Linked DNA regions of Homo sapiens. The protein of the gene in region 4 purifies or fractionates together with the protein of the main gene of each other region. This does not show direct contact. Each region holds a gene or a part of one and is shown on either strand. Other genes may lie near its edges.

What was found.
Region 1: the proteins of C19orf18 (region 4) and STX6 purify together in Homo sapiens (affinity purification with mass spectrometry; one large-scale study listed by BioGRID and IntAct). This does not show direct contact.
Region 2: the proteins of C19orf18 (region 4) and MFAP3 purify together in Homo sapiens (affinity purification with mass spectrometry; one large-scale study listed by BioGRID and IntAct). This does not show direct contact.
Region 3: the proteins of C19orf18 (region 4) and FGFR2 purify together in Homo sapiens (affinity purification with mass spectrometry; one large-scale study listed by BioGRID and IntAct). This does not show direct contact.
Region 5: the proteins of C19orf18 (region 4) and BMPR1A purify together in Homo sapiens (affinity purification with mass spectrometry; one large-scale study listed by BioGRID and IntAct). This does not show direct contact.
Region 6: the proteins of C19orf18 (region 4) and NDFIP1 purify together in Homo sapiens (affinity purification with mass spectrometry; one large-scale study listed by BioGRID and IntAct). This does not show direct contact.

Annotation. Positions count from the first base shown.
Region 1 is NC_000001.11:180,997,790-181,002,959, reverse strand, and holds part of STX6 (syntaxin-6), read left to right. Parts: intron 1-259; coding exon 260-354; intron 355-5,170. UniProt on the Homo sapiens protein: SNARE promoting movement of transport vesicles to target membranes. Targets endosomes to the trans-Golgi network, and may therefore function in retrograde trafficking.
Region 2 is NC_000005.10:154,047,436-154,052,605, forward strand, and holds part of MFAP3 (microfibril-associated glycoprotein 3 isoform 1 precursor), read left to right. Parts: intron 1-2,121; 5' UTR 2,122-2,287; coding exon 2,288-2,582; intron 2,583-5,170. UniProt on the Homo sapiens protein: Component of the elastin-associated microfibrils.
Region 3 is NC_000010.11:121,476,771-121,481,247, reverse strand, and holds the end of FGFR2 (fibroblast growth factor receptor 2 isoform 1 precursor), read left to right. Parts: intron 1-1,134; coding exon of another isoform or gene 1,135-1,197; exon of another isoform or gene 1,198-1,226; coding exon 1,227-1,391; 3' UTR 1,392-1,577; coding exon of another isoform or gene 1,578-1,667; 3' UTR 1,668-2,916; downstream 2,917-4,477. UniProt on the Homo sapiens protein: Tyrosine-protein kinase that acts as a cell-surface receptor for fibroblast growth factors and plays an essential role in the regulation of cell proliferation, differentiation, migration and apoptosis, and in the regulation of embryonic development.
Region 4 is NC_000019.10:57,970,566-57,976,216, reverse strand, and holds the start of C19orf18 (uncharacterized protein C19orf18 precursor), read left to right. Parts: upstream 1-1,682; 5' UTR 1,683-1,784; coding exon 1,785-1,905; intron 1,906-2,013; coding exon 2,014-2,118; intron 2,119-3,712; coding exon 3,713-3,754; intron 3,755-5,651.
Region 5 is NC_000010.11:86,758,788-86,763,957, forward strand, and holds part of BMPR1A (bone morphogenetic protein receptor type-1A isoform 3 precursor), read left to right. Parts: intron 1-5,170. UniProt on the Homo sapiens protein: On ligand binding, forms a receptor complex consisting of two type II and two type I transmembrane serine/threonine kinases.
Region 6 is NC_000005.10:142,128,570-142,133,739, forward strand, and holds part of NDFIP1 (NEDD4 family-interacting protein 1), read left to right. Parts: intron 1-3,238; coding exon 3,239-3,326; intron 3,327-3,642; coding exon 3,643-3,773; intron 3,774-5,170. UniProt on the Homo sapiens protein: Activates HECT domain-containing E3 ubiquitin-protein ligases, including NEDD4 and ITCH, and consequently modulates the stability of their targets. As a result, controls many cellular processes.

The DNA.
Region 1 (5,170 bases), on a different chromosome or scaffold from region 4:
CCCTAAGTGTTTGCAGTGAAGCTCATCAGCAGGGGCTATGCTTCCTAACCAGACAGATCATCTCTGTCTTGGAGCAAAGGGATCCTCCCTCCTGTGGCTGTGGGCAGAGGAAGTCTGAGAATGATTGGTGTCCAGCTGACTGTGTTTTCAGAAAGTTTGAGCCAGATTTTATTTGTTTGCATGTGAGAGATTCAGTGAGTTAACAGGATGTTGTCAGGCTTTGATGATGAAATTGTTTTACCTTGACTTTTTGACCTACGCATAGTTGAAGCAAATCCTAGAAAATTTAACCTTGATGCAACTGAATTGAGTATAAGAAAAGCCTTCATTACAAGTACTCGGCAAGTTGTCAGGGTAAGGAATATGATCTTATTGTGTTATCTGTATAAGAAATAGCCAGACTTCTTAGAGCTCTTTCCCTTAATTGTAAACTAATAGGTCACCTCTGAAACCACTTTTTAAATATGAATTAAATGTGAGCTTCCCCATATATAATTTCTCTGATTGGCTGCGCATGGTGGCTCATGCCTGTAATCTCAGCACTTTGGGAGGTGGAGGTGGGTGGATCACTTGAGCCCAGGGGTTTGAAACCAGTCCGGGCAACATGATGAAACCCTGTCTCTACAAAAAAAAAATATAAAAATTAGCTGGGCATGGTGGTGCACACCTGTTGTCTCAACTACATGGAAGACCAAGATGGGAGGCTGAGGTGGGAGGATCAGGTTGAGGCTGAGAGCTATGATCACGTCACTGTACCTTAAAAAAAAAAAAAAATTTCCGTGATTGAAGAAAAAGAAATCTGTTTTTAATCTTTCTTTTTTTGACACAAGGTCTCACTGTGTTGACCAGGCTGAAATGTAGTGGCATGATCTTGGCTGACTACAACCTCTGCCTCCCAAATAGCTGGGACTACAGGCGTGCACCACCACACCAGGCTAATTTTTTGTAGAGACAGGGTTCACCATGTTGCTCAGGCTGGTCTTGAACTCCTGAACTCAAGTAGTTTGCCTGCCTCAGCCTCTCAAAGTACTGGGATTACTGGCGTGAGCCACCATGCCCAGCCTGTCAGGCTTATTTCCGAGAGCAAAAATGAGACAGTAATCTGCTGGCTTTGGGCAGGGTACATTCAAATGGTGTCATCCTGAATGATTAGACCCTTGTCCATACCTCTAGTTTCTTCAAGCTAGTTATCTTTCTCACTTTTTATTTCTTAGTGTACTCTATTTCTTGACGAACAAAACAATTGCTATTGTAGAAACCATTTGGTTTTTTGATTGATTGGTAATCACTTCGCATTGTTGAAGAGTGACTCTTAGTGGGTTTGGATAGCGGCCTCTTCCGCCATCTGAATTGCTTCTGGAACTCTTGCAACCCAAGATACTGACATTTCCATATGTAACTACTTGACAGCCGTTCCAGAGTTATCCAGAGCAAACAAGCATCTATCAGAGTGTAAAAAATTGATCCAAGTGAACAAATCTTTAGTTCTAAGTTATTTAGAATAATACCCATTATTAAAGAATCTGAGAAAAAATATTAAGTACAATCTTGTGTCATTAAAATGTTTCATATTTTGAAACTATATGGCTAAGCCATTTGATTAGCATAACTAGATGTAAGAGAACCAGCTGTCTTTAACATATGTACTAGAAAGCAGCTTCCTTGAATAAAAAGACTTGGGATCATACCAGTGCTAACATACGGCTTTTTAAGAGTCATCTTAGGCAGGAACCTTAGTTTGTGTTTGCCAAAGTCTTTATATCATGTGATTTCCTTTTGAAATTATTTCAAATGGTAGATTATCACTGAACTTTATATATTCTTGTTACTTGTTTTATTCATTAGTTGCCTTTCTATATACATATACGTAAATTGTTTATAGATAAACCCACATTTTAATGAGGGAGAAACCTTTCTGGACCTCAGATGCCCCATCCACAGTGAGTGTTTGGATTGGACATTCTTAATTTCTAGCCAGTTCAAAATACTGTTCTGATGAGGAAGCCTTGTTGTTAGGTGACATATTTTTTGTAAGATAAGTAAATCCCCAATTATTTTGTATAAGCTTTTTTTTTTTTTTTTTTGTAGTAGTAGGTTTTTTGAAGGATACTCCTATAGACGTTAATATTTAAGTGGGGCCTTGCAGTGAAGCATATGTCCTTAACCTTAATCATTATATTTATTTCTGCAAGGTAGACTTAGGAAGTTTGCAAATTGAAATTTAGAGGTTCGTATATTAAAAATTAAGTTCATTGGTATAATGGAAAGAAGAATCCAAAGTTCATTTTCTAATATCTGAAAAGCTTTTTAAAGTACATTCTTAGAAAGAGGTTGATATGATTTAGCTGTTTCCCCACCCAAAATCTCATCTTGAATTGTAATCCCCATAATCCCCATGTGTCAAAGGAGAGACCAGGTGGAGGTAATTGAATCATGGGGGCAGTTTCCCACATGCTGTTCTCATGATAGTGAGTGAGTCTCATGATAGCTGATGGTTTTATAAGGGGCTCTTCCCACTTTGCTCTGTCACTCTTCCCTGCTGCCTTGTGAAGAAGTTGCCTTGCTTCTCCTTCTGCCATGATTGTAAGTTTCCTGAGGCTTCCCCAGCCATGCTGAACTGTGAGTCAATTAAACCTCTTTCTCTTATAAATTACCCAGTCTCGGGCAGTTCTTTATAGCAATGTGAGAACAGAGTAATGAGAGGTATTCCAAATCAAGTCAGTACTTCAAAATCTTACTGTCCTTTTAGAGTTGAGATCTAAACCATACTCAACTATGTGATCCACCTGAATATTTTAGGGTTTTAAATCATTCTTGTTTAAATTTATGACCCCTTTGGGGGAAGCTGTTAGTATTTACCAGTGGTAGGCTAACAGTACCTAACTGAGCTTTTGCTGATCTGATTGTAATAAATTCTAGTTGAAAGTCCTATAGAAGAGGAGGAAATAGCAATGGTGCTAACTCGATTAAAAATAAAATATACCTTGTATAATTCCACATTACCACATTTAGCTAAACAGTGTTTGTATGTAGAGATTTCTGGGTTCTGGGTGGAAGAGCTCGATAGAGAGGGAGCAGAGGGTTAGCAGATTTGGAAAATGAGATGAAATGAAGTTCAAATTAGGAATTTGTACAAATTTATGTTAGTTCTTCTGTTACTATTACTAGTGGGCTTTCATTTAATATTGCTCCAAAATTTTGATTGACTTTATCTTTCAAACAGTGTATTCTACTTATGCTTTCTCTTTTGTAGGCAGGGGAGTCAGTGATACTCTATGCATTTTGTGGTTTTTTTTTTCTTTATTTGCTTCAACCTGAAGAAGTAAATCGCCTGTTTCTTCTTGATTAATGTCCATTGGTTATGCCTTTAGTAAGCTTTCCTTGTTTAGAGTTTTGTGTATGTTTTTCCAAGCATCTTTTAAGTCTGTACAAATCCAGTTTTGCTGGCAGTTTTTAGTGAAGAACCAAAATACTCACATTTTTGTGTAAATAGCTTTCATATTTTTGAGGTAATCATTTTTACTCTTGTGGAGTCACCTATACATCAAAGATTCCACATGTGAAATTTTTGTGTTTTAGAAATATATCCTAGAAGTGACTTTGGTTTTACTTTAGGATCAAGAGGTTTTGCAGTATATGGCAGAATAATGGTGAATATAAGGGGTAAGGGAACCTGAGTTCTAGGCTAAGCTGTGACCTTAATAAATCTTAACCATGGTAAGTCATTCAACCTCCCTGGATCTCAGTTTTATCTATGAAATAATCCTCACTAACATTCTCTGACTTTAAAAGTTAGAACTATTACCCTCTCCATGAAAAAACCGAACCTGCTCCAATGTAAGAATTGTTTACAGTCAATTGTAAGTCAAGATGGAAATGGCTTTGGTTAATCAAAAAGGGTGAAGTATCCAGTGTGAGCACAGATGACCTTGAAATGTAAGAATTATGAGTGGGAAGCACTGGGGTTTATGATGTCTCATTCATTCAGCTTGGAAGACAGTGTGAAATGGGAACAGAAGCATAAATAACCAGGACATTTGTTGTTCCTTTGGCAGATGAACCATATTTTATTGGGACTTGTTGCTTGACTGCTGGTTCTAAACGTCATGTGTTAGAAAGAAGATGAGTAATTATGTTTTTGGCATGATAGATTGTTATAAAATGTTTAAAACTATTTAGTAACATAGTTTAAGATCCCGAATTCCAATATGAAGGTGTTGTGTGGTATCTGCTAACTTTTGACCTACATGGATAAAGTGCCATCTTAGAAGTGAAAGCTGGCGGGGTGTGGTGGCTCATGCCTATAATCCCAGCACTTTGGGAGGCTGAGGCGGGCAGATCACTTGAGGGCAGGAGTTTGAGACCACCCTGGCCAACATGGTGAAACTCTGTCTCTACTAAAAATACAAAAATTAGCTGGGTGTGGTGGCAGCTGCCTATAGTCCCAGCTACTTGGGAGACAGAGGTGGGAGAATTGTTTGAACCGGAGACAGAGGTTGCAGTGAACTGAGATTGTGCCACTGCACTCCAGCCTGTGAGACAGAGTGAGACTCCTCAAAAGAAAAAAGAAAAAAAAAAGAAGTGAAAGCCATAGATCCTTAGATCCTTACCCGCGGTGGTGGTGGTCACATACAGGATGCCTACCCACAGGGCTATTGGAGGAATCTGCCTCATCAGGGCTAACACCCATGCAGGCACACACATAACCCCACATGGTTTTTATTAAGCATAAAACTTTAAAAACTGCAACTTTAGAATACACATTTAATTATGATAATGCAAGCTCAAAGAAAATTAGAGAAAATTTTCAAGAAGTAAAAGTAGGAAAAGGAATCTAAACTCAGAATAATACATAGCACAAGACTTTGCATTTTCTTCATAATTTTCCTCCCAATGCAGGGCAGTTGTATTTTTACATAGTTGTGATCATACTGTTATGCAATCATAGCATTTTATTTTCTTAGGTTAAAAATAATCTGTACTTGGTATTTATAAAATGCAAATAATCCTGATGAAAAAACTTTGAAGAGAAAATGCCTCTTCGTTCTCCAATTTCACTCCCTAGAAATAATTAGTGTCAACAATTTTATTTTTCACAGCCATTTTATGGACATTGAAATATGCAAACTTTTAAAAAGCAGTGGCATGATAATCTGTAACTTTTTTTCTA
Region 2 (5,170 bases), on a different chromosome or scaffold from region 4:
AAGAGTAGAAAGGAAGGAGATGGCAGGTTAAGAAATGAGGTGGCATTAAAATAAACTGGAGTTGTGGGGGGCTTTTTGTTTTGGTTTTGGTTTTACTACAGAGAGAGCAAGCCTCCAGCTCAAAGCCTTTCAGCAGGCAGTAGTATCTCTGGAAGCTAATAACACTTCTTTGTTTTCATTATGTTTATGTGTACGGTTACATTTGTCCACAGAACTGATGTAGAGTTTCCTTTTTAAATAAATGTGAAAGTAAAAATAAAATGAGTTGATTTAAAAGAAAAGCAGAAATGACGATAATTTGGTTCATGGATATAGTAAAAACAACAACAACAAAAAAGACAGGAGAAGGAATGAATGAAGTTTGGGAAGTGCTGCCCTGGATGAAGCTATAGGAACTCCTAATCAAAGTTCTGGAGAAAGCCTGGAGCATTTTTTCAGCACACTCATAGCCTGTCACCGTTGAGAACCACTAATCTAGAATAAAGTACAAAATTATGTCCTCCAATTGCTGTATATCTTGCAGTGAAAAAGAGCTTGGAAACTTACATGTCAAGCCCCTAGCACAGTGCTTGGCTGATGGCAGTCATTCAATAAATGTTATTTCCATTGTTTCTACCCATCACCCCCTCTTAAAAAAGAGACTGTATTCCAAACTAGATTCTCCTACTAACTTGTAGCATGTCGTAAGAAGCAAATCACTGTGCACTGAATCAATTAGATTATATTACTTCCAAAATCCCCTCTCTGCCTAAGTCTTTGTTTCCTTTAGTGTCCTTTTTGTGCGGTTTTAGGAGGAAATGGAAATAAACACGTTTAGTGTGTCATGTATTGCCAAAGTCTGAAGGTTTTTTATTTTACTCTGTATACCCCATCCTTAAATTGTAAAGATTTAGAAAAGTATTTGTCACCATTCAACCATCCTTTCAAGGGTTAATTAATGAAAATTAAATGACATTTGCACCGTATTGTAATTTAGACTTTGAGATATTTAATGGCAAAATACAGTGATTCATTGTTTTTTATGTTCTGTGATCAAGCAGCCTTCATATAAATATAAAGGAGAGTAAATGTCATTTCCAAAACTAATTATCTTGGTGCTTTATAAGACATAAAGCTAGGCATTTCATCCCATATTTTATAGAAATAAAAGTTGAATTTTTTCTTTGAGAGTTGGTGGCTTAAAGGGGGAGTCAAATTACCAGGAAGGTGATCATAAATACATAGACTTTTGGACTAGGATGTTATTTTGCCTTTTATTCAAGATATTTTGCTCTTCTTTTAAATGTGTCTAACAATCTGTCCCTGTAGTTTTATATTTGCATTTCTACTAACTAGACACTTAAGATGTCAGTTCCTCCCTTAGCTAGTTTACAGAGTTTGAGCTAGAAATTTGGTATGCTTACAAACTATTAAATACACTGTACTTTGTCTCTTCGTATTGGAGAAACTATTAAAAGAAAATTCTGTTGTCTAATGTTCTTGCCCATGAAGGAGGTTCCATAGCTTTAGAAGTCAATAACTCTATTTATGTGTATGCAGTAAGTGCAGCTTTCTTTCCAGTGTTAAAACAACCCACCTCAGGTGTCCCTGCATTATTTATATGTAACATATCTTCATACTTGAATTACTCAAATTTTGAGCTCCATGGTTATGATTATGATATGCCAGTTGATTTACATTATAACAACAGATGGTAATGGTGCAGGTTGAAATAAAAGATCATTAAGATAAATATTTTAGCCTTCATTGGCTCCCTGTTGCATAAAATTTGTCAGAATGAAATAGAATCATGGCATTTCAGAATTGGAAGAGTCCTTAGAGATTATCTCATCCAGTCCCTTATTTGACAGAGGAGAAAACAGAAACCCAGAGAGAATGCTGCTTGCCAAGGTCGTACAGCTAGTTAGTGGCAAAGCTAGGACCAAAATCTAGGTCTGCTATTTACCAATTCATTGCTTTTTCTGCTGTCTCTGTGTGAGATTTTTAGGTACTGTTCCATCTAATTACTCCCCAATGTCAGCACCAATTATTCTAATTAACATCTATTCATTCTGGAACATACGCACTTTCACCCCATTATGAATCTCAGTTGGTTAAACTTTGTATCTGGCTTTCTTTTAGGTTCTCTACTCACATCTTTTAATCTTGAAGACTAGAAAATATAACTGGATCTACCACTTGTTTGGAAAATTTCTCTACCAAGCAATAAATTACCCGCTGTGCTTTTGTTGTAGTGTAGAAGTTTTTGAGTTCTCCAAATCTAAACAAGATTTTGTCCCATTTTCCCATGAAGCTACATTGTTGCTTATTCACTTTAGTGGCAAGTATTATTGTGCCAGCTGCTTTTGTTTTGGAAGATGTGGACTTCGACCAAATGGTTTCACTGGAAGCAAATCGTAGTTCTTACAATGCATCCTTTCCCTCAAGCTTTGAACTCTCAGCAAGTTCCCACTCGGATGATGATGTCATCATAGCCAAAGAGGGAACTAGCGTTTCAATTGAGTGTCTTCTCACAGCCAGTCACTATGAAGATGTCCATTGGCACAATTCAAAAGGACAGCAACTGGATGGCAGAAGCAGAGGTAATTGGTCAGGGTATAATTAATCAAGGTTACTCATTTCCTGTTCTGTCTTCTTATTTTTTAACACGTTAAACAAAAAGTCTCAAAGATAAGGTGCCAAGGTGAATAGTTTAAAACATTTGAAAGGTCTGGAGTGTTGTACCTATCAGAAAATGCAAAGTAATTATAATTGTTTAACCAGAAGAAGAAAAAAAAGAATCATTCTAAATTTAAAAGATGTTCACATGATGACAATGAGCTATTTTCTCTCCTGATCAGTTGGTTTTCTTCTTCATTGAAGGTAGAGTAAATCAGGGCTGCTGCATACAGCTGTACAGGTGGTATACAACACAACTCTGGGAGCACCCTTCACCTAGACTACTATGTCAGTAGTACAGTGTGGTGGCCCTGTGTGAATACATCCAGAAGGTTTTTGGCTAGACTTAAGAAAATTTGTTATAAATAAAAAAGTTTTGCTCTGAAATTAGTTACTATAAACTTTAGAGGAAATCCAGGACATTTTTGAAAATGAGTATCAATCTGTGCATAAAACTTTGACGTCAGGTCTCAGAGAATTAGAAGGGCACTATGGAACTTGTAAGCCCTTCCAGCTCTTTTTTTTTTTTTTTTTTTTTTGTATTCTATACCTTAATTTACTGGAAATGAGAAATTTTTTTTTGCATTTTTTGTTTATGTCTTAAAAATCACATAAACATAGTGTGTTCAAGGTCTACTTTTTGACAGATTTTTATTTAATTTTCCTATTCATGGATCTGTGAATATATCTTAATCCAGACTACTCCTAACCAGTGTTCTGTTATAAAGATCTTTTTGATGAGTACTTGAGTTATAATGGACCTCAAAAAGAAATCACCATGAAAAGCCAAAGGGATGAAGCTTAAATTCTAAGATCCTCACAAGCTACACTTTCAGAAATTTTTTTGTTAGGAAGATAGTGTAGCCTTCTGAAATAGAAAAGGATATTGGTTATTCATATTAGGCTGGAAAACACAAAAGGAGACAGGTGATACTTCCTTCAGACATATGCACTATTTTAATCTATAGACTGAGTGACTAGTCACCAAGGGATTGAAGAGTTTGAATTGTTAGGGTATTTTTAATCAGCATGTTTAAAATACATAACTATTGAATTAGAGTGATACCTGGAATGTGTACTTTGAACATGATTTGGGGTTCCATATTTGAACCCACTGAACCAGACTCCTATCTTCTCTGGGCTCTACGATATCCTGACCAAACACCTCTGAGATCTGAATTATTCATTCAGTGTCATCACTGTAGACTGACTGCATAAACAAAGCCTTAGGTTAAAACAAGACCAGCCAAGTGGAATGGCAGTTTTATTTTTCTATTTTGCCTTTACTTTGAAAACCACTAACATCTATCATTGATGCTTTCAGCAGCAGCTCTGGAAAATTGTATTAAATTTTATGAATCTCAAGTGAGAGGAGTTTAAAGAGCATGTCAGTCTAGTATAAGGTTCATAAATCTTGAGCTATTATCAGCAAGTGAGCTAGAGAGTTTAGATTGTGGTTGTAGTGCAATGGTTGATGAATGGAGTCTTTGTAGTTCATCATACCTTGGATTCAAGTGGTGTCGTTTTCATAGCTCTAAGTTCATAGAACAGAAGCTTATGGAAAATGGCTATATTCATAACTACATGTTTTCCTCTTTTTGTATTAGTGAAGTGATGGCTTTTAAATATATTAATACCTATAGGATTGAGATAAGTTTGGATGATGATGAAAATGGACAAAATCCAGAGTGCTTACTAATTTATGTGCCACTAAAATAATCCAGAACCATAGAATCTTGGGGATGAAAGAGATTTTGAAGATTGGGCACTCAAGTAATGCTTAACAAGCAGTCCGCTAACCTCCTCTGGGACACCTCCTCTAGTCATTGGAATGCATCCCCACACTGCAGGTTAGCCCATCCTTCCCATCTCTGAATGGCTTTCATAGTTAAAGCACAGAGTGCTTTGGGAATGTATCACAAAAGTAGGAATTATGCAGTCAGAGCCAAGTTATTGAAGGATGTGAATCAAGATGCGTAGTCAATATGCTTTGCTTTTCTTACACTTGTATACTTCTATATACGTGTTCCCTGAATGAAAATACCTTCACGTGTGGAAGAGAGGCAGTATGTTTTAGGTTGAAAATGGAAGCATAGGCATCTTAAGGGCAACTTTATTCTTTTTGCCAAGCTTTTCATTTACCATGACTTGTGAGATGTATTTTTTGGCCTGTGCTTCAGTTACTCTTGCCAGAAAATCAACAAAAGTTTCTTAACAACAACAACAAAAAATTGATATGTGCAAGGCATACCAGATTAGGCAGTTACTTCAACAAATGCATTAAATTGCTAGGATTTTTTAAAATAATTTCTTCTTGTTATATAATTTCACTATGGAAAGTGAGCAAACACAGTTAGAAGAAAATAAAAATTACTCATAAAAATTTAAAATACTGTTATTTTAAACCATTGTTTTATATTTCTGAGACATACCCTCATAGTATATGAAAATGTATTGGTTGCAATGTGATGTAGACGGACACATATGTATAAACTATAAGCTTTTTTTATGA
Region 3 (4,477 bases), on a different chromosome or scaffold from region 4:
AGAACTGCCCCACTGTGCCAGCCCAGTGGAGGCAGAGAGACCCACAAGTTCCCAATTTAGAAAGCTTTTCATAGCTTCAGAACAGGGGTCGGCAACTGCTTTCTGTAAAGGGCCAGGGAGTAAATATTTTCAGCTTTGCCGGCCCTGTGGTCTCTGTTGCAACTTCGCCACTGTAGCCTCAAAGTAGCCACAGACAATATGTAAATAGATGTGTTCTAGTCTGTCTTCTAGTAAAATTTTATGGATCCTGAAATTGGAATTTTATATAATTGTATATAAATTTTATTCATTTTAATCCTATAAGATATTCTTCTTCTTTTGATTTTTTTTTTCAACCGCTTACCAATGTTAAAGACCATCTTTAGCCCTCAGGCCATACAAAGTCGTCTGTGGGCACCCAAGTCGGAGGAAGTGTCACCCTGGGGTGATCCAGAGGGCTTTTTGCAGCACCAGCACTGGATGCCTTGGGGAGCAAAGGACACTTTCTGAATCTCGAACCTTCAAAACTTTGAAACTTAACCGATATTTTCCTGAAGTTTCCTTTAACAGTGCATTATGGATTTAACATACATGAGTATGTCTAAGCCTTTTTTGAACCTGTTTACATTTTCAACTCGGAGAGCTTCTGAGAGTAATCAGTTACATCTGTTAAATTACCCACTGAATGAAGAAGTATTCCCCTTCAATTATCCCCGAAACTACAATAGTAAAATGTAATTCAGAAAATAAATATTCATAGTCTCAACTACTTAAAGGGGGTCTGGGGACCCACAACATGTTACCGGTTTTCATTTTGCTGGGGCTCGCATTTGAAGCAAGGGCTCTAGTGAGGAGGTGGTGTAGACTCAGCGGGTTATTTAGGTCCGTGTGAAGCCGAGTTGCCTGCCCAGCACCTATAGCTCAACTAGGTTTTATTGTTCTCTACCTGTCAATAGTTGATTTATGATGGATTCCAAGAGAAAAGCTAAGGACAGCCTGGGGTACATCAGACGTGGTCTCAGGGAGGTCTTCGTGGAAGTCAGGTGGGCTGGGTCTCTGTTCACCTTCTAGGGGTCTCCTGTCCTGTCCCACGTCCAATACCCACATCTCAAGAGTTTGTGTTTGAAATAAAACTCTTCTCTTCCCTTCTTTCAGGAATACTTGGACCTCAGTCAGCCTCTCGAACCGTATTCACCTTGTTATCCTGACCCAAGATGAAATAAAACGTCTCTCTTCCCTTCTTTCAGGAATACTTGGACCTCAGCCAACCTCTCGAACAGTATTCACCTAGTTACCCTGACACAAGAAGTTCTTGTTCTTCAGGAGATGATTCTGTTTTTTCTCCAGACCCCATGCCTTACGAACCATGCCTTCCTCAGTATCCACACATAAACGGCAGTGTTAAAACATGAATGACTGTGTCTGCCTGTCCCCAAACAGGACAGCACTGGGAACCTAGCTACACTGAGCAGGGAGACCATGCCTCCCAGAGCTTGTTGTCTCCACTTGTATATATGGATCAGAGGAGTAAATAATTGGAAAAGTAATCAGCATATGTGTAAAGATTTATACAGTTGAAAACTTGTAATCTTCCCCAGGAGGAGAAGAAGGTTTCTGGAGCAGTGGACTGCCACAAGCCACCATGTAACCCCTCTCACCTGCCGTGCGTACTGGCTGTGGACCAGTAGGACTCAAGGTGGACGTGCGTTCTGCCTTCCTTGTTAATTTTGTAATAATTGGAGAAGATTTATGTCAGCACACACTTACAGAGCACAAATGCAGTATATAGGTGCTGGATGTATGTAAATATATTCAAATTATGTATAAATATATATTATATATTTACAAGGAGTTATTTTTTGTATTGATTTTAAATGGATGTCCCAATGCACCTAGAAAATTGGTCTCTCTTTTTTTAATAGCTATTTGCTAAATGCTGTTCTTACACATAATTTCTTAATTTTCACCGAGCAGAGGTGGAAAAATACTTTTGCTTTCAGGGAAAATGGTATAACGTTAATTTATTAATAAATTGGTAATATACAAAACAATTAATCATTTATAGTTTTTTTTGTAATTTAAGTGGCATTTCTATGCAGGCAGCACAGCAGACTAGTTAATCTATTGCTTGGACTTAACTAGTTATCAGATCCTTTGAAAAGAGAATATTTACAATATATGACTAATTTGGGGAAAATGAAGTTTTGATTTATTTGTGTTTAAATGCTGCTGTCAGACGATTGTTCTTAGACCTCCTAAATGCCCCATATTAAAAGAACTCATTCATAGGAAGGTGTTTCATTTTGGTGTGCAACCCTGTCATTACGTCAACGCAACGTCTAACTGGACTTCCCAAGATAAATGGTACCAGCGTCCTCTTAAAAGATGCCTTAATCCATTCCTTGAGGACAGACCTTAGTTGAAATGATAGCAGAATGTGCTTCTCTCTGGCAGCTGGCCTTCTGCTTCTGAGTTGCACATTAATCAGATTAGCCTGTATTCTCTTCAGTGAATTTTGATAATGGCTTCCAGACTCTTTGGCGTTGGAGACGCCTGTTAGGATCTTCAAGTCCCATCATAGAAAATTGAAACACAGAGTTGTTCTGCTGATAGTTTTGGGGATACGTCCATCTTTTTAAGGGATTGCTTTCATCTAATTCTGGCAGGACCTCACCAAAAGATCCAGCCTCATACCTACATCAGACAAAATATCGCCGTTGTTCCTTCTGTACTAAAGTATTGTGTTTTGCTTTGGAAACACCCACTCACTTTGCAATAGCCGTGCAAGATGAATGCAGATTACACTGATCTTATGTGTTACAAAATTGGAGAAAGTATTTAATAAAACCTGTTAATTTTTATACTGACAATAAAAATGTTTCTACAGATATTAATGTTAACAAGACAAAATAAATGTCACGCAACTTATTTTTTTAATACTCGTGTCTTACCAAATGGTTTCCTGTGCTTGGAGGTGCTGACTGAGTGCTGTTGTGAATGCAGGAAGGGCAGGGCTGCCAAGGGTCTTATGTGCTACACACGGGGGTGACTTGCCAGAGGGGTTGACTGAGACCAGCAGTACCTGTGACAGGTTGAGGTTGATCCAGTGGAAAATCTGAATCAGTTGGTTGGAGCCCTGGCTCGGTTGCTTACTGGCACCTCAATGGAATCATCGTTCCTTTCTGAGCCCTACCAGTTCCCCAGAGGAGCAAACAAAGAGCCACATGGTAGAGAGCTTTGCAAACTGGAAGGTGACCTAAGGATGACAGGTATTGAGTAGGGAAGACGTTCAGAACATCTGAATCCTGGGGACTTAAAAACCTTTTAGGCTGTTTTCTTCATGATGTATGGAGAGAAGGATTTGCTTCAAATTTTCCAAAAGAAAACTTGGACAAATGTTCGAATAATTATTTATTTTCATACCACCAACGATCTGAAGAGGGAAATGGAGTTTTGCCTGTCAGTTAACAAATGTGAATCTGTGACTCTTAAGGGTCTGTTGTATCTACTTGCCAGCCTCATCAGCAGCAGGAAAGGGAATTGAACATAGGCCAACTTCTCCTGCACTTCAGCCAGGCTCTTAGAACCTTACAGGGCCATTGGTAAAGAGTGCTGTCTTTGGGGTCTTCTTTCTGTTTGAGGCCATTCATGGTGGAGCAAGGTGTCACCAGCCATCAGGGGAGTGGCCTAGGGTCCTGGTTCTGTATTTCCCAAACCTCTGTCCTTCTGTTTCTTACAGGATAACAGGGCTCTTGGGAATGTGATTTTAAAAATAAGGTGCATGAAAGCCACCTAAGAAAATTGTCACCTGTTAGACACAAGTGTACAGGGTGATGTTCTGTACCCCTGGGGACATTTCTACCGTGAGATGTCCTTGGCAAGGGTGAGGATGGACTTGCTGGGGTCTACGCTGGTTCCTCCGTGCAGCTCTCTGGTGCATATGCTGTACTTTAGACACTGAAGGGCAGTTTATAGCCTTGACAGTGTAGATTATAATGGCAGTAAGAACTGCTGTATTTCTGGCCCATTTCATGGAGATGGGTGGGCAAGAATCCTAAATGGTCTTTTGGCCATTTTGATTTTAGAATTATTTTGAAAGAGACACTTGTCATGAAGGGCAAGAAGGCAGTGTGGTCCATGAGAATGATAGGTAATACAGTACCTTTTTTTTTTTGAGACCTGTCCCAAATGAGCATACACAGGTAGGATTCGATAAGAATCCTGGAGCTTATGGCTCTCCTCCCCCAAGAACCTAAGGAGAGCGTTGGAAATTAGTTGCAACTACATGTGATGGTCACCTAACCATCATGAGATGAGTTCATTTGTGAAGAACCAAAAGATTGCAGGCATCTTGGATGTGTAGTGCCCGGCCTGCTGTTCCTAACTGGGAAAGGCATATCCAAGAGGCTGCCTCAAAACGTCTAGCTGATGGTAGCCTCTGGCAGGATGGGGAGCCAGAGAAAGCGGGTGGAAAAGTAGCATCTTCACGGGGGTTCTG
Region 4 (5,651 bases):
AGAATCATACTACCAGTAGGATGTGGATATTGTATTCTAATAGCCAGAGTGAATCCAAATTATCTGATTTAGAGATTCCAAAGGATTTCATAAGTCATATGCAATATACCACAAGCATCCTGGTAACTTATAACCTTATTACTAAGATTATTATCTTGAAAAAATTTCTAGGCCGGGCACCGAGGCTCATGCCAGCATTTTGGGAGGGACAGGAGGATTGCTTGAGCTGAGGAGTTCAAGGCCAGCCTTGCAACGTAGCAAGATCCCATCTCTGTTTAAACAGATAAGAGTTTTTTTAATGTCTTAAAGGGCCTCCTGGCAGGGCACAGTGGCTCACTCCTGTCACCCCAGCACTTTGGGAGGCCAAGGTGGGTGAATCATGAGATCAGGAGTTCGAGACTGGCCTGGCCGCCAACATGGTGAAAGCCCATCTCTACTAAAAATACAAAAATTAGCTGGGTGTGGTGGCAGATGCCTGTAATCCCAGCGGTTCCAGAGGCTGAGGCAGGAGAATCGTTTGAACCCAGGAGGTGGAGGTTGCAGTGAGCCAAGATTGTGCCACTGCACTCCAGTGTGGGTGACAGGGCAAGACTCCATCTCAAAAAAAAAAAAAAAAAAAAAAAAGGGCCTCCTGTTGGTCAGGTCACATCACGAGTCAAAAGAAAGTCCCAGACTTCTGCTTCTTCCTGGAAGTATTCCCTTCCTCTCACCTATCATGCACAGCCTGGACAGTATTGATTTCAGTGGTCCCTAACATCCAGCACTCCCAGGTCCCCTCTGTCTCCCTCATACATGACATAGTTCATTGCCTTTTTTGAGCCCGTCTTCTATTCCTCCCATCTCTGAAGCCTAGGGCCCACTTTCAGTCATCAGGAGTCCCCCTTTACCTTCCTGCTGTGGGTCTCCCCTGTGCACATTGCCTCCCTTCTAAGGGTGACTGCTTTCCTTCCACTTTCTTTTCTTTCTTTCTTTGTGCAGTGGTACGATTTTGGCTCACTGCTACCTCTGCCTTCTGGGCTCAAGTGATCTTCCTGCCTCAGCCTCCCGAGTATCTGGGACTACAGGTACACGCCACCATGCCTGGCTAGTTTTTGTTTTTGTGTTTGTTGTTTTATTTTTTTGAGACAGAGTCTTGCTCTGTCGCCCAGGCTGGAGTGCAGTGGCATGATCTCAGCTCACTGCAACCTCCACCTCCTGGGTTCAAGTGATTCTCATGCCTCAGCCTCCCAAGTAGCTTGAACTACAGGTGTGCACCACCACGCCCAGCAAATTTTTGTATTTTTAGTAGAGATGGGCTTTCACTGTGTTGGCCAGGCTGGTCTTGAACTCCTGGCCTCAAGCGATCTGCCCACCTTGACCTCCTAAAGTGTTGGGATCATAGGCGTGAGCCACCGTGCCCATTCCTTTTTTCCTGAACATTTTCCAAGTGAGGTTGTTGGAAATCACGGATGGGGAACTATGCATGCGGAGGGCTGACTGTAATTGATTTCTTTCTGCCTCCTCACTAATCTGCACACTGCAGGCAGGGACCTGGTCTCATCATGCCTGCACCTCCAAGCACTGCCCTCTTACACTGTAGTCTCCCCATTGGTCAGCATGGTTCCATGAAGGAACTCCATTATCACAGCAAGGACTGACCTCACACTGGTGGCTCCAAGTCACTGCCCAAACATTCTGAAGGGAGTAGAACTTCTTGATTCCTCAGATAAATAGAGGACAGATGCTGGACTGTAGCTAAGTATTTCCTTTCATCTACGGGATAAAATACTGATAATTTGAGAGTGATGGACAAGGTTCAGAGTGGTTTCCTCATTTTGTTTTTGTTTTTAATGGAATGCCAACTTCATTTATGCTTGCCGTATGCAGATGGACTCCATCCCACTGGAAACATAACAGGCTTACCAGGTAGCTTCAACCACTGGTTTTATGTGACTCAGGGAGAATTGAAAAGCTGTTTCAGGGGAGATAAAAAGAAGGTAATTACATTTCACCGCAAAAAGTTTTCTTTTCAAGGCAGTAAACGGTCACAACCACCCAGAAACATCACCAAAGAGCCCAAAGTGTTCTTTCATAAAACCCAGTTGCCTGGGATTCAAGGGGCTGCCTCGAGATCCACGGGTGAGTCATTGAATTCCTCATTCAGTGGAGTGAGAATCGTAGCCTGGAGTCCTCTTATCTGCCATGTGAATGTGTACTGTGTGCTTGCTGGTAGAAAGGTCCATAAAATAGAGTATAATTAGATAAACATTTGCTTGGAAATTAGATCTTATGCTCTTCACTCTCTGTTAACTGCTTTCTCTTTAGGGATTGCCACTTTCTTCTCTTTTTCATTTCACTTTAATAAGCGCACACAAAAACCTTGATCCCATCCAGATTACACAGGTATGCCTGTCTGACTTGAATTTGGTGCACATTTGGCAGTAGAGCATGCAAGTCTAGACACAGAAGGTTTGTGAGTGTACAGAATTCTTTTTTTTCTTTTTTTTTTTTTTGAGACAGAGTCTTGCTCTGTCGCCCAGGCTGGAGTGCAGTGGCGCGATCTCGGCTCACTGCAAGCTCCACCTCCTGGGTTCACACCATTCTCCTGCCTCAGCCTCCCAAGTAGCTGGGACTACAGGCACCCGCCACCACGCCAAGCTAATTTTTTGTATTTTTAGTAGAGACAGGGTTTCACTGTGTTAGCCAGGATGGTCTTGATCTCCTGACCTCATGATCCGCCCGCCTCGGCCTCTCAAAGTGCTGGGATTACAGGCATGAGCCACCATGCCCAGCCGAGAATTCTTTATAAGCATTTTCTATGGTTCCCTTCTAATTTGAGTACTAGAGGATGTTTGTTTATCTTATAACAGCAAAACCAACCCCGACAATCTTTGAAGCTCAGCAACCCTTTGTGGAGATATATGATGCTTGTAAATAATCTCCATTCCATGCAAGGGAAATGCTGTCTGTGTGATACATTTGCATGTAATTTGTGTCCGAGGAAAGGACACTATTGTTGGTTCCCTGGCCTCTCTGCCTGGCTCTCTGATCCTTTTTTTTTTTTTTTTTTTTTTTTTTTTTTTTTTTTTTTTGAGACGGAGTCTCACTCTGTCACCCAGCTGGAGTGCAGTGGCGCAATCTCGGCTCACCACAACCTCCACCGCCGGGTTCAAGCAATTCTCCTGCCTCAGCCTCCTGAGTAGCTGGGACTACAGGCGCGTGCCACCATGCCCAGCTAATTTTTGTATTTTCAGTAGAGACGGGGTTTCACCATGTTGGTCAGGCTGGTCTCGAACTCCTGACCTCGTGATCTGCCTTCCTCGCTGGGATTACAGGCATGAGCCACTGTGCCCAACCCTTGCTGACCTTCTAATGAGGTCGTAGCCCCTTCAACTCTAAGTCTCTCCAGGTCCTTAATTTGGGCAGAGATTTCCCAACTTGTATGACTGCAAAAGGAGACCAGAAACCAAAAGTATCCTGTTCCTAAAGGTCATTCTTCATGACAGGAAGCACCAGGTGCAAAAAGAACAGCAGGCTCACCAGGCTTCTGCAAATTAACCCACACATTGCTGCCAGGCATTGGGAGGAATGTATTAACACATCCCATCTTAGATATTTGGAAGCTGTGTGTTCGGCGTCCTTCTCTAATGCTAAGTTATTTCCTTGTTTTCCCAAGTTCATCTTAAACCATCTTAAAGTCTCTTCTTTTTGATCCCCTTTGATGGCCTTTTAGCTGCATCCCCTACGAACCCCATGAAATTCCTGAGGAATAAAGGTAAGCCAAGGGATCTGGGAGGGCGGGTGGACCCGCAACATTCCTGAAGCTGTCGTGATGTGTGGCTCCAGAGGGTGCTGGCTGGTCACCAAGGAGCCTGCACACGTGGTGCCTTCATGTGTGTTAGACAAGGTGCCCCCTCTGGAGGGGGATGCGCAGTGACACCGCTTGGGGCAGGTGAGAAGGTGGCTCAACTCCACGGGCTGATGTTGTAGTGAGTAGAGCACAGGCTGTGTCTGAGATCTCTTTGTGGAACACACAAAATGCATGGGCACACACAGCGGCCCTGTCAGCAGCCTTTCTAGCAACTCTCCCCACTGTGGCTTGTCCTGGAACCTCCTCAACACCTCTCGCTTCAGAGTCCTCCAAAGCAGAAGGCACCTTGTGTCCTGCTGCTGCTCCCGCCCCAGAGCATCCTTCCTTCTCCTCTGCACATTTGCTAAGTGCCTGCAACAGGGCGGCTTCTGAGTCAGCTCCCCCACCACCTACCCATCTCCACTGCTTTCACATGTAGCCAGCATTTTATTTAATCACATATGCTGAGTGAGACATGCAGACACAGAAATGACTGTCATGAAGGAAGAAGCCTGATACTCACGGGTCCCTAGAAGCAGGAGTCCACACAAGGAAGCACCAGGGTCTATCAGAAGGCAAAGGGAGCCAGGAAAGTGTGAGCAAAAGCCTTTATTCTGGGCCGGGTGCGGTGGCTCATCCCTGTAATCCCAGCACTTAGGAAGGCCGAGGTGGATGAATCACTTGAGGTCACGAGTTCGAGACCAGCTTGGCTAACATGGTGAAACCCCATCTCTACTAAAAATACAAAAATTAGCCAGGAGTGGTGGTGGGCACCTGTAATCCCAGCTATTTGGGAGGCTGAGGCGGGAGAATCGCATGAACCTGGGAGGTGGAGGTTGCAGTGAGCTGAGATTGGGTCGCTGCACTCTAGCCTGGGCAACAGAGCGAGGCTGTCTTTTTTAAAAAAAACAACTTTATTCTGGTTTTTACAGGAAGGCAGGTAGGGAAGGCGGGCTTGGGATCAGCTTGAGTGATTTGGTGGCTGTGGGGCATGGGGTATGTCCCTGGTTGTCTGGGACCTGGCCCTGGGGTGGTTGGGGGCAGGGGATGGTGGCCTGGAGCATGAGGGCTCCATAGAGATTGTTGGGGTGTAGGCTTTGGGTGTGTCGGCTTGCACATGAAAGGTGCACTTGCAGGCCAGGGTTTACTATCTTCAGGAATTGGCTGGACCTGGGAGGGCAGTCTCTTCAAGGGTCAGTTAAGGCCCCAAGATGTCAAAGTATCAGGAAATACAGAAAATAAAAAACGTGATGAATACATCCATCCACGCCAAACACATTATCAATCTTCCTAAAGCTCAGCTATGACTGTTTCACCTGCCCATTGACACCACCATCACCAAAGCACAGAGCTTGAGTCCTGGCTGGGGTATCAAAGGCCTGCACACTGGTCCTTCTTTTGACACTAGCTCGTTTTGTGTGCTGGTGCTAGAAGGTCACTGAGACCTCTGCCACCCCTGAGCTTCAGGTCCCAGTTGTAGGTAGGATAGAGACGGGACAAAATTGTTTATCTAATAAAGTTGATGGTCCGGGTGCAGTACAGGCTCATGCCTGTAATCCCAACACTTTGGGGGGCTGAGGTGGGTAGATCACCTGAGGTCAGGAGTTTGAGACCAGCCTGGACAACATGGTGAAACCCCATCTCTACTAAAAATACAAAAATTAGCTGGGCATGGTGGAGGCCAGCTACTCGGGAGGCTGAGGTAGGAGAACCCGGGAGGCTGAGGTTGAAGTGAGCAGAGATCGCACCACTGCACTCCAGCCTGGCAACAGAGCGAGACTCTGTAACAAAAAAAAAAAAATTATATGGAAAGATGTCTACC
Region 5 (5,170 bases), on a different chromosome or scaffold from region 4:
CAAGGAACTATAACCTAATCAACACATTTAACTACCTTTTTCTAAGTCCTCTCCTTGAGTTTTCTGTAAGATTTAACATCGACTTCACATTTTCAGATGCCTCTCCTTGGGTTTCATTCATCTATACTCGCTGTATTCTAACACAGGGTCCAAGGCAGTAAGATACAACAGATCCTTCCCTCATGGAGCTTAAAGTCTAGTGGGGAAATACTTATTGAAAAATAAAGTCTCTAGTTAAATATAATTGTGATTTTAATTAAGGTGCAGAATATTATAAGAACTTCAAATGGAGACCTGATCTGGTGCTTGTGGTGGTGGGAGAATCTGGGAAAGATACCTTAAAATTGCTTTGTTGGAACCCAGGCAGATTGTGAAGGATGAGCAAGAGTTAACTATTAACTAGATGAAGAGGGGCCTTTTGTGACATTATACTGACTTTGTTCCTCTCCGCCACTTTTCTGCCTTCTGTTTCTTCTTTCCTCTTTAATATGCGTTCTCCAAGTTTCACTTTTCAGATCACTTTTCTCTATGTCTCTAGTCCCTTAGAATGATTGTTCAGACCTTTCTGTTGGAATAATTCTCAATTCTTTGTTTATGTGTCTTCTGAATCACGTTTTTTTGTTTGTTTGTTTTGTTTTTTCTTTTTTATTCAGTTGCTTTCTACATATCTGTACCTGATTGTTCTGAGCTGCTTTTCCTTAGCAAACTTGCCTCTTTGGTGTTCTTTATTTTTGTTGATGTCATACCAAACCCAAACCTTTTCCCATTTCATCATATCTTGTCTGTAGCCAACATCTGTTGATTCTGCTTTATGATATTGTAACTCTTCTGCTCTCTATTCTTGCTAACTGTGGGGCAATTCTGAATTCATATTGGTGTGAAGGTAGTAGTCAAATCATAAAACGAGTTGGGCAGCTTTCCTTCTTTTTCTCTTTTTCAGGATCATTTTAGACTGGGATTATCTGTTCCTTGAAAGTTTGGAAGACCTCCCCTATGTGACCATTTAGGCCTAGATCTTTTTTCTGGAGAGGACTTTGAGTAACACTTCAATTTCTTTAATAGCTGTTGGTTTGTGTCGATTTTCTGATTCTCATATGAATTTTAATGTTTCACATTTTTTTCAGGAATTTATTTTCAAATCTAGTGTTATTTGGCTTTCACGTAGTTCTCCCCCCACCACCCCGCGACTCCACCCCCACCCCCTAACTCTAAATCAAGTTCTCATCCCACCTGGACTAATGTTATGATTTTCTTGCCTTCACTTTTCTCCTTTATCTAATCTTATGTATTTCTGCCTAAATTAATCTGTAAGCCCAGTTCTTACCACTTCGCCACTCAGAAGTTTCCTAGGTCTTCCATTAAATGAAATATTTTCTGTGGTATTTGCCTCAGATTTACCTGTTTTTTTTTTTTTTTTTTTTTAATACCTTATTGTTTTTTCTTTCTTTCTTTCTTTCTTTCTTTTTTTTTTTTTTTTTTTTTTTGATACAGAGTCTCGCACTGTCGCCTGGGCTGGAGTGCAATGGCGTGAGCTCAGCTCATTGCAACCTCTGCCTCCTGGGTTCAAGGGATTCTCCTGCCTCAGCCTCCCAGGTAGCTGGGACCACGCCTGGCTAATTTTTGTATTTTTAGTAGAGGTGGGGTTTTGCCATGTTGGCCAGGCTGGTCTTAAACTCCTGACCTCAGTTGATCCGCTCGCCTCAGCCTCCCTGTGCTGGGGTTACACAGGTGAGGCACTGTGGCTGGCCTTTATAGCAGTTTTTATACAAATATTAGTTTCACTACTAGTTTGCAGGGTGGGTCTGTAACGGACTTTTCTTGCATATTAAAAGGAATAAATGGGGAAAGGCTCCTGTCTAGCCTAACAGTAGCTGTTGAACTGTCCTGATCTGACTATTGGATCTTAGGAGCAGCGAACCATGGAGAGAAAGGAAAATGGGTTTCCTATCACACTAAATTTTGAAGTAGGAACCATTTCTTTTCCTTTTCTACTTTCCCACCTTTTACTAGTTTTTAGGCTTTAGGATGTCTTTTTAACATCACAAGGTCCATATTGACCAAGTTGGACCAACTTTTTAACACAAGATTAAATGTTGACTTGCATTGAGTTATGTCCATTGTAAGATACACAGTAGTGTTACAGACCACTTAAAATATGCTTCTAGTTGTAAGAAGCCATTGATTGTAAGGTGCACCCCAATTCCGGAGATGCTAAAATATGAAAAATGGATGCATCTTAGAATTGATGAATAGTGTTTCTCTCCCTAATCAAAGCTCTTGGATGTGCCTGGAAATCCCCAGTAGTGTTTTTTGAAAAGAACACTAGTTAGGGGCATAGGGAGATCAGATGATCAGTAGACTCCATCTCAGGGTGGCCCCTGTGGTCCCTAAGCCAGTTCGTATGGGCAGTTTAATATATAACTAATGAGTAGACATTGAATAGATGAGTAAATTATCTTTGAGTATCTTTTATTTACTCTGATGTTGTAGACTTTGTTACTCTTTTATAGTTTTATATTTCTGATGAGCCTTCCTTTCTTATGGCACAGATTTGTTATACTGTTAAAGTCTGGAACAGTGGAGCTTGGCTCTTGATCCAGCTGTATATAATTGGCTGTTGACTTATGAAGGAGGACAGGAGTATGCTAGAGATAGGGATAAAATATTATAATCACATTTGCAGTTAGGGAGATTAGTTACATGTTGGAAAATCATTTTGAAGAAAGGAAGACTGAAGATGTTCAAACTTGTAGGAAGGTCTTTCTGGCCTAGCCCGGATTAAACCCATTTATGCCTAGTGTTCCACTATTGGAACGCTAAGCACGTGGGAGTTATTTATATCCTGCTCAAGGTCATCACCAAGGTCTGATTGCAAAAATTCAAAAAATTGCAGCCTCAGGCATAAATGGGTTAAGATGGTGGCAGATAATTAGGGCCTGGAATGGATAGGAGGCGATAACTAGCGTGGATGAGAGAAGGAATGGGATTGGCAAGAACAACTCCTGGATTTCTAGCTTGGAAAGCAGGGTAGATGTGGGTGACAGATATGAAAAATGAGGTGGGAGAGCTGGTTTGTAGAAGAAAATAGTATTGGATCACATGGAGTTTGAGATATCTGAAACAGCCAAGTAGGGATTTCCACTTGGCAGTTGTCTATATGGGTCTGGGGTTTGACAGAGGTTTGTGCTGGAGGTAGGCATTTGGGAGTCATTGCTGTATAGATTTTATATTCCAACAGTGGGAATTGGGTGGCTCTCTCAAGTGACTCTTGCTTACAAGTGACAGCCCTAACTCAAGTTAGCTTAAAGGAGGGAAAAGCTTCTCCCCACTAACCCCCATGATATTGAAAGGTCTAGAAATAGACATGGCTGGACCTAAGTGCTCAAATGATATAATTAATTGAGGTTGTCTTTTCTGTTCTTCACTTTTGTGGTCTCATTTCAGGCAGGTGCATATATCTGGCAGAGGAAGACATAGGTTATAGGTTATAGAATTACAGGTTATAGGTTATAGACCTCGTATCGAGAACTCCTTGTATGGTCTAGCAAAGAGCCTAAAACAGCATTGAGAATTTTTTTTCTTTCTTTTTGAGACGGAGTCTTGCTATGTTTCCCAGGCTGGAGTGCAGTGGTGCGATCTGGGCTCACTGCAACCTCCGCCTCCTGGGTTCAAGTGATTATCCTGGCTCAGCTTCCCGAGTAGCTGGGTTTAACAGGCGCCCGCCAATACGCCTGGCTCCTTTTTGTATTTTTAGTAGAGACAGGGTTTTGCCTCGTGGGCCAGGCTGGTCTCAACTCCTGACCTCAGGTGATCCTTCCGCCTTGGCCTCCCAAAGTTCTGGGATTACAGGTGTGAGCCACTGCGCCTGGCCAGTCTTGAGAAATTTCAACTTAAGGCCTGGGTAGAGAAGATAGACATTAAATAATTATCTAGTTGTAGTTATGTTAAGATCTACAAAAAGGAAGTCCAGGGAATGTTACAAGACTGATAAGGGAAGCTGGGCTGTTCAGGATGCGGGTACTTTGGAAGGCTTTCCTGAGAAAGGTAGCCCGCAGAGTGAGACCTTAGGCAAGAAAGGACAAGGAGACTGTTTTTGGAAGTATTCAGTAGTATTTATTTATTTATTTGAGACGGAGTCTCACTCTGTCGCCCAGGCTGGAGTGCAGTGGCGTGATCTTGGCTCACTGCAACCTCTACCTCCCGGGTTAAGCGATTCTCATGCCTCAGCCTCCCAAGTAGTTGGGGTCACAAGCGTGAGCCACCACGCCTGGCTAATTTTTGTATTTTTAGTAGAGACGGGGTTTCGCTGTGTTGGTCAGGCTGATCTCGAACTCCTGACCTCGTGATCCGCCCACCTCGGCCTCCCAAAGTGCTGGGATTACAGGCATGAGCCACTGCGCCCGGCCAGAAGTATTCGGTAAAGTGAGCAGTTTTTGCAGCTTTTTAAAAATTTTAAAGGCAATACATCTATTGTGGGTAATTTGGGAAGTATAAAAAGCCATAAAGAAGCAGCGGAATGATTAAGTTTCAGCTTCTAATTTTTTATAAATAATGTCTGATACTGGTTTTACTACTGAGTACCTATTCAATCACGGATGCCACACTAACCCAATCCGAATCTTCGTTTCTTTATCTTAAAAAATAGAAGGAACATGGTGAACTTTAAGATAATTTTTCTGCTTAAAAAAAGAAAAAGAAAGAAAATATCTTGACTTGCAGCACAGTTAGCTGCCGAAATTGAAGGTCATATAATGCTTTTGGTCCTAATGACATCACTGGACTTCTGACTTTTGGCTGAAGAATCACGCCAGCCTTGGCAGTCCTTGCAAGTACCAAAGGGAGTATGGCTTATGCCTGCGGTGCCCTTCCCGTATCCTGCTTTCTTACCTCCTTTTTTGAGCATTAATTTTTTTTTCTTTAGCCTTTGGGTAAAGTATCAAAATGTTGAGAAGATAGACTCTCAATTTTGAAGGTGAGAAATCTGTAGGAGACTTGGATAGTTGTTTTTTTTTTTTTTTTTTTGAGACGGAGTCTCGCTCTGTCGCCCAGGCTGGAGTGCAGTGGCGCATGTTGGCTCACTGCAAGCTCTGCCTCCCGGGTTCACGCCATTCTCCTGCCTCAGCCTCCTGAGTAGCTGGGACCACAGGAGCCCGCCACCACGCCTAGCTAA
Region 6 (5,170 bases), on a different chromosome or scaffold from region 4:
GTGATTGCCTCTCCCCGCGATCCCCCTACATTGCAGTGTTTTGTTTTAAACAGCTTTCTTGATGGAGCCTAATCTTATCACCAGCATTATAGAAATAAGCCAGAGTGAGAAGCCTGTACAGTGAGGTCTTGGGATTATACCATAGTCATAATGGTGTTTTAAATTGTTTTTATTTTTCAATTGAAAAAAGTACACTATTCTAAAGTAGTGAATTTTAGTGGAGCAAACTCTTCACCTGGAAGTGTTTTTTTCCTTACCAAAGTGAAAATTGGTGGTTCTAAGAAGGCTGGAATTTATTTGCACTGTCATCTTTTACTATGGTGGGGGATGATCAAATTTAACATTTCCAAGTTTCCAGGAGACAGGCAGCCTATCTTATAAATATTGTCATAGAAGACCTCTTAACCTCTTTGTTCTTTGGATTTCTGTATTTCTTAGAATTGTCATGCTTCCTTTCTGAGACCTAAATTATGCAGGGGTAACGTGATTACTTTGACACCAAGCTCAGGAAATATAAAACGGGTTAAGTATAAACCAAGCTAGGTTTAAATGAAGTTCATTACTGGCTACAGTATATTAAGGGAACATATTCGAAAAGTCTGTATTTGCCTTTGTTCTTGCTGCTGACTCTTCTGCTTCTTTTGGTGACCTTCCCACAGCACAAGAGTGGTTAGGTGTGAGGAGGCTAAGAATACCTTGCCAAGAGCTTCAAATAATGTTAAAACCAGTATTTTAGGTGAACCATGGTCCCAAGAACTCTATTTAAGTAATTCCTAGTTCGGTGTCCCAGGAGCATTTGGCTTTACTGCACCTATTTTGGCCACATGTCTTTGTTTAAAAGGAAAAATTATCTTAGGTTATAATACAGCTATTTTGGGAGTACCTTAAGTTTAACATTAGATTACTAGGATTCGAAAAAATGTACCCAGATGGTAGATGCTGATGAGAATTTGACACAAGAATTCATTTGAAATTGAAGCTTTTGTAGTATTAGTCAGAAAAATTTATTGACATCTGGTTTTGAACAGCATAGTGAGTGGAGATTGAGATGATCAGTTAAAATTTAATGGATTGTGGCCGGGCACAATGGCTCACGCCTGTAATTCCAGCACTTTGGGAGGCTAAGGCAGGCATATCACCTGAGGTCGGGAGTTTGAGACGAGCCTGGCCCACGTCTACTAAAAATACAAAAATTAGCCAGGTCTGGTGGCATACGCCTGTAGTCCCAGCTACTTGGAGTCTGAGGCAACAGAATTGCTTGAACCTGGGAGGTGGAGGTTTCAGTGAGCCGAGATCCCACCATTGCTCTCCAGCCTGGGCAACAAAAGCGAAACTACATCTCAAAAAAAAAAAAAAAAAAAGAAAGAAAGAAAATTTAATGGATTATGGAGCTCTACTTCACATTAGTACACCTCGGTCTCTCTGTTTTTCTGTCTCAATTCAAGATAGAGTTCTTTGTAGCGGTATGGTTTAGAGGTGGTATGTATTTTACAAGTATGTCAGTTGGCTCTGTATATCCTGATGATACCGAAGCCAGGACCAGACCCCTACGTCAGTTATATCACTAAATATTCTGTTATTAATTTTCAGATTGGCTCCTAGTCCCAGCCAACTCATGTTTTAAATTAATATAGTTCATTGTCACACTGGACTGGAAAAACCAAATGAAATGTCTTTATTCTATGAAGATGACTTGTGTAGACTATACAGACTAGCAACAGCAGACACTTTCAGTGCGAGTTATTTTAAAAAATTGAAGATTTGACTGGCAGAAAAGTTGCTGAGATAGGGAAAAGGGATATCTATTGACAGATATATGTAGAATTAGGGAGAATTTTATGTTTTCATAAGTGTCTCAATTATTTAAGATTTAATTTGGTGTGCATGTGGAATATAATGGTAACATGGTTTGTCTGTGATTTGTCTTTTGTCTTAACAGATTATTTTTCTAACTTTAAAAAAGTATACATCACTTGAGGCCAGGAGTTTTAAACCAGTCTGGGCAACACAGGAAGACCCCATCTCTACAAAACATAAATTTTAAAAAAAGTTAGCCAGGGTCACAGTGTGCCATAATTGTGCCACTGCACTCCTGCCTGGACAACAAGAGTGAGATCCTGTCTCTCCAAAAAAAAAAAAGTATGCAAGTGATAAATATTCACTACAAAATATTTGAACATGCAGATACACAACAAAAAGGAAAAATTCCCCTGTACTCCTATTACCTAGAAATAACAGTGTTGAACTGTAAATGTCTCATTCTAGGCCTCCTTTCCATTATATGTCTGCCTTTTTAAAAAGGATTATATGATGCCTATTGTTTGGCAAGTTTAGCTTTTTTCATGTAATAATAGTACACTGTAAATATCTATTTGAGTAATGAAATTTAATTTTTTTTTTTTTAAAGACATGGTCTCTCTCATGCCCCAGGCTGGAGGGCAGTGGCACAATCTTAGCTCGCTGCAGCCACGACCTCCTGGGTTCAAGCCATCCTGCTGCCTCAGCCTCCTGAGTAGCTAGAACCACAGGTGCATGCCACCACTCCCGGGTAATTTTTGTATTTTTTGTAGAGACAGGGTTTGTTTTGCCATGTTGCCCAGGCTAGTCTTGAACTCCTAAACTCTCCTAATCTCAAGCGATCCCACCCACCTAGGCCTCCCAGAGTGCTAGGATTACAGGTGTGAGCCACCATGCCTGGCTGAAATTTAATGTATATTTTTTTTGACACAGAGTTTCACTCTGTTGCCCAGGCTGGAGTGCAGTGGCACCATCTCAGCTCACTGCAACCTCCGCCTCCCGGGTTAAAACGATTCTTGTGCCTCAGCCTCCTGAGCAGCTGGGACTATAGGAGTGTGCCACCATGCCTGGCTAATTTTTGTATTTTTAGTAGAGATTGGGTTTTGCCATGTTGGCCAGGATGGCAAAATTTAATTTTTAATGGCCGTTTAGTAGTCCTTTGTGTGATGTACTATAATTTATTTGTCTCCTATGATTGGAATTTAGGTTGTTTCTAATTTTTGCTGACACAACACTTATATGTACCCATTTTGCCTCTTTGAATATTTCCATAGAATAACTTCCTGGGAGTAGAATACTTTTCTTAAAGGATTTGTGCATTTCAAGGCTTTCAAAATACGTTGCCAAATAGCTTTCGAGAAAGGCTATTTATTTCAGTTTTTGGGTTCTTATCTTTCTAATTGGCTTTATGCTTACATTAAAATATGAAATTTTTATTTAGTTGCAGAATGAAGAAGAGTCTGGAGAACCTGAACAGGCTGCAGGTGATGCTCCTCCACCTTACAGCAGCATTTCTGCAGAGAGCGCAGGTAGGTAACAGGGCAAGGTGATCACGGAATCCTTAAAAACACTCTGTGCTTTGACATTACAGTTTAAAAAAAAAAAAGCTTCAGAAGCAGTTGGAAGAAAGGTTACAAAGCAAGTCTGGATTTTAAATAATTGAGAAGTGGATACATTTAAAAATCACCCCCAGTCTCTTACATTCATCTAAGAATGTCTTTTGGTTCAATTGTTATGTATGTACTCTTAAGGGAATGGCTGGGTTTTGTCTGCTAGAGTTAGTGGAACTCCTTTTATTTCAATTCAGCTAATCATCAAAAAATTGTGACTGTTAAAATTCTGCAGCATATTTTGACTACAAGGATGAGTCTGGGTTTCCAAAGCCCCCATCTTACAATGTAGCTACAACACTGCCCAGTTATGATGAAGCGGAGAGGACCAAGGCTGAAGCTACTATCCCTTTGGTTCCTGGGAGAGTGAGTATAATTTGCCATGTTACTTGATGGCTGCTCTGTGGGAATTAAGTTATTTTCATTATCCAATTTTGATTCGTTACTTATGATTGTATTGATTAGTGAAAGTAGAGCTAATTTTAAAAATCAGGTACATTTGCTTTTGGGATAATAAACTCATCTCTTCTTAAAAATGATGAGGTAAATTACTAGTCAGACCTGCTCATTTTTCCTTCATCTCTCCTATTACCACTACTTTTTCAAGTCTCCTGGGATGGCTGAAGTATCTTGAAGCAGAAGCACACTAATGTTTCCTTGATTCTGCACACTTAATATTTTGCTGTTGGGTGGATAGCTGCTAGGGAGGTCTAGGAAGAGAATAAATATATGCAAATTTGTAGAATTAAACTCATAAGAGGGATCTTCACATTGATTTAGATGAACTCCGTTCTTCCAGCAGTCCAGATCATGTCATTTGTGGGGACATAGTGAGTTCAGATTCCATCTAGCCTGATGTTGATTCATGGAGGTGGAGATTGGGATGCCATATAAACCAGTGGAGATTATTGGGCACTCTTGGTTCTTGATGTCAGATATGTGAGTGCTGCATTTGTCATTTTGTAAATATTCATCCAGATTGAGGCTGATGAAGGTAGGGCATTGTGGGAGAATGGAAGCAGGATAAGTCCCCAGAAATGCGGGGACCATCAGGCCTCTAGGCTCTATTCTAGCAAGTAACTGGAGTGAGTGATGAGCAAGTACAGAAGCCTAGTCTGGGCAGTGTGATGGCATAGGCCCAGATGTTCCCCTCTTGGCTTTAAGATAGTAGACAGTTTGCAGACCACACCTACTGTGAGGAGCGAAGCTCCTAAAATCATTGCTTGGTAGAAATAGTTTATGAGCCCAATCTAGGATGATCCTAAATGGCGATGATGTGCATTCAGTTCTTACAGGTACCAGGGAGAAACTAAAAACCCTAGTGTCTAAGGGCAAGACCATCATAATGTAACTGCCGTATATTGGAAGCAAACCACATGCTTGGTACTGTGCTTGATGCTTTTATATATTTTGTATATTGTTTCCAATCTTCATAGTAACCTTGAAAGGTAGAGATTATATTATCTCCATTTTACAGATGTGAAAATTTAGGTCCAGAGAGAAAAAGTAATTTTCCCAAAGTCATATGACTGATAAGTAGCAGAAGTGAAAGTCAAACCCAGATATTCTAGAATCCAAAGTCCTTGTTTGTTTCACTGTACTCTGCAGATCTGTTGCAATATATGGTAAATAGATCAGTATGGAAATTAGCTCTGATTAATCACATAACTCTTCAGAATACTTTCATTTGATACAAGTACATATTTAGGAACTTCTTAAAGGGCTCTAGTATTCAGCAGACATGTATAAAGCACTTTTTAAAT